Linked DNA regions of Homo sapiens: region 1 is linked to region 2. The links come from fine-mapping of genetic effects on gene expression. Tissue or cell type: whole blood. Region 2 holds a variant in brackets; the other region holds the start of a gene. All regions are shown on one strand. Distances are from middle to middle.

Evidence for each region. PIP is the estimated chance that this variant, and not a neighbour inherited with it, causes the effect.
Region 1: it holds the start of ABCC1, and the variant in region 2 is fine-mapped to the expression of ABCC1 in whole blood (TOPMed, PIP above 0.99).

Annotation. Positions count from the first base shown.
Region 1 is chr16:15,948,461-15,951,142 of GRCh38, forward strand. It overlaps ABCC1 (ATP binding cassette subfamily C member 1 (ABCC1 blood group)), which reads left to right and starts at 1,156. Exons shown (of 31, transcript NM_004996.4): 1 at 1,156-1,339. The coding sequence starts at 1,292. It overlaps LOC107984869 (a long non-coding RNA gene), which reads right to left and starts at 711. Exons shown (of 3, transcript XR_001752339.2): 1 at 331-711.
Region 2 is chr16:16,102,673-16,105,354 of GRCh38, forward strand. ABCC1 (ATP binding cassette subfamily C member 1 (ABCC1 blood group)) reads left to right here. Exons shown (of 31, transcript NM_004996.4): 20 at 1-45. Among named protein-coding and RNA genes, the nearest start is that of ABCC6, 120 kb to the right of the region's middle. The variant G/A (reference allele first, on the strand shown) is at 1,232.

The DNA.
Region 1 (2,682 bases), 150 kb before region 2:
ATTATTATTTTTTGAGACAGAGTCTTGCTCTGTTGCCCAGGCTGGAGTGCAGTGGTGTGATCTAAGCTCATTTCAACCTCCGCCTCCCAGGTTCAAGTGATTCTCCTGTTTCAGCTTCTCAAGTAGCTGGGACTACAGGTGCCCGCCACCATGCCCGGCTAATTTTTGTGTTTTTAGTAGAGACAGGGTTTTGCTATGTTGGCTAGGCTGGTCTTGAACTCCTGACCTTATGTGATCGGCCCGCCTCGGCTTCCCAAAGTGCTTGATTACAAGCACGAGCCACCATGCCTGGCCTACGATTATCATGTCTCCAGGCTTCAGTTTCCTTACCTCTGAGGTGAGGATCAATAACCTGGTTATTTCTAAGTGATGCTTAAAGAGGTTGAGAAGAAGCAAAGGCGCTCTGCACACAGGTGAGGTCAACAGCTGTTAGTGATGGAGACTGGCGCCGTCTGGGTCATCAGTGCTCCGGAATCAGGCTGCTCACGGGTTTGAATCTCACTTCCACTTTCACTCCTTATTAACTGTGTGACCTCGGGCAAGTCACTTCGCCTTTCTGAACCTCAGTTTCCCCATCTGTAAAAGGTAGGTGAATAACAGTATTCACCTCCTTCTGTGTGACTCAGCTTTGGAGTCAGCGGACCGGGTTCAAATCCCAGCCCTGCAAGTGATTAGCCAGGTGACCCTGGGCAGAGGGAATCACTCAACCTCTCTGCACCTGGGTTTCTTCCTTCATGAACGTGGAGACTTTACAGGATGAAATGAGGGCACAGTTAAGGCGCCCGGTACACTCCAGGCAGGTAGGGGGCTCCGTTCACGTTATTTTCCCCTGGTGACGGATACTGTCCTTAAACAGCATTTGAAAAGTGGTCGCAGGGTGTGTGGCCCCAAAGATCCCAGGCGCTTCCGGAAGGCGAGCCAACGCTCCCCAGGCCCGTCCGCGAGCGGGTGGGCCTAAGCCTTGGAGGATCTGGGGTGGGGGTGGCGCGGGGTCCAGGCCCGGGGCGCCGAGAGGTGGCTGGTCCGGCTGCCCACGCCGAGACGCGCGAGGTGAGCGGGCGCCGGGGCGGGGCGGGGTGGGGCGGGGCCGCCGCATCCCCGTGACGCGCGGGCCAACCAGGCGGCGTTGCGGCCCCGGCCCCGGCTCCCTGCGCCGCCGCCGCCGCCGCCGCCAGCGCTAGCGCCAGCAGCCGGGCCCGATCACCCGCCGCCCGGTGCCCGCCGCCGCCCGCGCCAGCAACCGGGCCCGATCACCCGCCGCCCGGTGCCCGCCGCCGCCCGCGCCACCGGCATGGCGCTCCGGGGCTTCTGCAGCGCCGATGGCTCCGACCCGCTCTGGGTACGTGCCGGGGGCCGCGTGAGGCCGGCGGGACGGAGGGAGGCCGGCGGGGAGGGAAAGCACCGGGCCCGCAGCCGCCCGGGGCACCCCGCTCCCCGCTCTGCTGCCGGCCTCGGGGGCCCGGGACCCTCACGTCGCCCGCGGCCCAGCCCCTTTCGGGGGTGCAAGGCATGGGGGAAACTTGGGTGACTCAGTTCCTGCGGAGCAGAGCGTGGGGGGCCGCGTGCCCAGCCCTGGGGTTTTGGAGGGTCGGGTCGGGTCAGAGCCGCCGTGAGGAGGCCTTCCTGTTTTGGGGTTCCCGTCTGTAAAAACAACCTTCCAGGGAAGGGGACGCTAGAGATGGGGGGCGGGAAGAGGGGTGTCTCTCTGCTTCTGTTTTCCCATCTTTTTTGTGGTTAGGGTCCCCCCTTTTCACGAAAAATACTCCGTGACCAACGGGGTGAGCTGGGGAGGGGCTTAGATTGTAGAAAGGGACTTTCATTGTCTCCCCAAAGTTGTCGTACAAGCCACATTACTCTTCTGTGGTTACCTAGCTTTGTTTTTTTTGTTCTTTCTACTTAGATACTGCGGGGGAAGTTTGGGGGAACCAGGGAAGAAGGGGGATGTCCACCCTTGATGTGCCCTACCTGACCCTCGGCTCGGGGCAGACTTGGGGTGCAGCTGAGGACGCCCAGGACCCTGGTAGCTGTGGTCCTGCCCTCCCTTCCCTGCAACACGTGGAGCTCCTCTCTGGGGATGCCCCTTAGATTTAACCCCGGCAAGTTTTCTTCTGTAACGTGGCCTGCGGAGCCTGACTGGGTGTCTGGAGTCCACTTGCTGTGGTTTAAGCCCCAGTCTTTTGGGCTTCAGCTTCTCCGTAATGCGATTTGCCTCTTTGTTCCAGGAAGGCAGGCACTTCTGTCTCGTGCTGTCTTGATTGTTGGTGAACGCAGTAGGCAAATCTGGACACGACTGTTTCTCTCTCCTCTTTTGTTTAGGAATCAGGAGAAACAGCCTTGGTTCTTAGGAGCTGGTGATCAGCTTCCAAAAATACTTTCTTGTCCTGTTTTGCCGGCCTTTCCTCGAGGGTTGCATTTGGAGTGTTGAAAAGTCATCCTCCAGGGCCCCATTGGAGGGTTTGGTTTTGTTTGTTTGTTTTTTTTAGTAGGGTATCATTGTGTTTAATAACCTACCACACTTTGATATATCTCCCATTTTAAGCCAGTGGGGTTGGAGAGTAACCCCAGGGGTGGAAATAGAACACAGACTTTGCCTTGAGGGTCTGGGGGTGATTGGAGCCTCTTTGCAGATGGACTTTCTTTAGCAGGGGAAAACCTGTGGCTTCCTTGTTGCCAGGTGTAGTA
Region 2 (2,682 bases):
GAATGGCATGCTGGTGACGGACAGTGCAGGGAAGCAACTGCAGAGGTAAGGGCGGGGAGGAAGGCCCCAACCTAAGGACCCTGCCCTGCCAGTGGGAGGACAAGAGGAGGAACAAAAAAAGGCCTCAGCCCCCTGAGGTCCTGGAAGGCCTGGGCTTTTACCTTCCCTCCCAAATCCTCCAAGGACCTTGCTTTTCAGAGTACAGAGGCCCAAAGAAGGAATGTGGCACTCTTTTTGCCAGGTGGCACAACTCACACAGGCCTCATGATTTAACCAGCTGTCCACGCTTCTGACACTCGGGCTCCCTACATGGTGTGGGTCTTTGCTCAGGTCTCTTGGCGGGGCCTGGAAGGTTCAGGCTTTGTGAAGCAGCATTTGATTTAAAACTGTCTCAAGGCCAGGTGTGGTGGCTCCTGCTTGTAATCTCAGCACTTTGGGAGGTTGAGGCAGGAGGATCGCTTGAGGCCAGGAGTTTGAGACCACAGTGGGTAACATAGCAAGACCTCATCTCTACAAAAAAGGAAGTATGCTCGTGTTTGATTATAGAGGGCTTCCTTAGATCCCTGGGGATTTATAGCGTATGCAGTATATTAACCATCCTAGCTTTTAAAAAACTGGCTAAGTCGGCCAGGCAGGGTGGCTCATGCCTATAATCCCAGCACTTCGGGAGGCTGAGGCGGGCGGATCACCTGAGGACAGGAGTTGAAGACCAGCCTGGCCAACATGATGAAACCCTGTCTCTACTAAAGATACAAAAATTAGCCAGGCATGGTGGCAGGCGCCTGTAGTCCCAGCTACTCGGGAGGCTGAGGCACGAGAATCGCTTGAACCCAGGAGGTGGAGGTTGCAGTGAGCCGAGATTGCGCCATGGCACTCCAGCCTGGGTGACAGAGCGAGACTCCATCTCAAAAAACAAAAACAAAACAAAACAGCAGCAGCAGCAGAAAACAGTAAAACAACAACAAAAATTGACAAAGTCGGAGCCTAAACGTATCAGACCGCGGAGATCTGAGAAAGGATCCCGGACCTGCAGTTGCTACAGGGGTCAGGAGAGAGCAAAGACCATGCGGCATAGCACGGTGCCTGGAACAGACAAACACTTCGTAGATGTCGCTTTTGCCATGGTTATCATCCGGACATGGTTATGGTCCGGAATTGGTGGGTCTTGGTCTCACTGACTTCAAGAATGAAGCCGCAGACCCTCACGGTGAGTGTTACAGTTCTTAAAGGT[G/A]GCACGTCTGGGGTTTGTTCCTTCTGCTGTTCGGATGTGTTCGGAGTTTCTTCCTTCTGGTGGGTTCGTGGTCTCGCTGGCCTCAGGAGTGAAGCTGCAGACCTTCGCGGTAAGTGTTACAGCTCTTAAGGTGGCGTGTCTGGAGTCGTTCGTTCCTCCCGCTGGGTTTGTGCTCTGGCTGGCTTCAGGAGTGAAGCTGTAGACCTTGATGGTGAGTGTTACAGCTCACAAAGGCAATGTGGACCCAAACACTGAGCAGCAGAAAGATTTATCGCAAAGAGTGAAACAATAAAGCTTCCACAGTTTGGAAGGGTACCCCAGTAGGTGGCCACTGCTGGCTCTGGCAGCCAGCTTTTATTCTCTTATCTGGCCCTACCCACATCCTGCTGATTGGTCCATTTTACAGAGAGCCGATTGGTCTGTTTTTACAGAGTGTTGATTGGTCCGTTTTGACAGGGTGCTGATTGGTGTGTTTACAACCCCTGAGCTAGATACGTAAGTTCCCCACATCCCCACTAGATTAGCTAGATATAGAGTGTTGATTGGTGCATTCACAAACCCTGAGCTAGACACAGGGTGCTGATTGGTGTGTTTACAAACCTTGAGCTAGATACAGAGTGCTGATTGGTGTATTTACAATCCCTTAGCTAGACATAAAGGGCCTCCAAGTCAGCACCAGACTCAGGAGCCCAGCTGGCTTCACCAGGTGGATGCCACACTGGGGCTGCAGGTGGAGCTGCCTGCCAGTCCCGTGCCGTGCGCCCTCACTCCTCAGCCCTTGGGCGGTGGAAGGGACTGGGCGCCATGGAGCAGGGGCGGCACTCGTCCGGGAGGCTCGGGCCGCGCAGGAGCCCATAGCGGGGAGGTGGGGAGGCTCAGGCATGGCAGGCTGCAGGTCCCGAGCCCTGCCCCGCGGGGAGGCAGCTAAAGCCCGGTGAGAAATCAAGTGCAGCAGCTGCTGGCCCAGGTGCTAAGCCCCTCACTACCCGGGCTGGCGGGGCTGCCCGGCAGCTCTGAGTGCGGGGTCCACCGAGCCGACGCCCACCCAGAACTAGCGCTGGCCCGCAAGCGCCCTGTGCAGCTCCGGTTCCCTCCCGTTCCTCTCCCTCCACACCTCCCCGCAAGCTGAGGGAGCCGGCTCCAGCCTTGGCCAGCCCAGAAAGGGGCTCCCACAGTGCAGCGGCGGGCTGAAGGGCTCCTCAAGCGCTGCCAGAGTGGGTGCCAAGGCCGAGGAGGCACAGAGAGCGAGCGAGGGCTGCGAGGGCTGCCAGCACGCTGTCACTTCTCAATCTTACACAGCCTAAATTCTAGTGGGAGACTCCAGACAGTGCATGAGTGTAGAAGGATGTAAGATTTTCTGTCGAGGTGTGTGGATGTGTGAAGTCCTAGGTCATGAAGCAGGAAGCCCCAGCTCCCCATTTGAATTCTAGATTCCATCCAGAGTTGGTTCC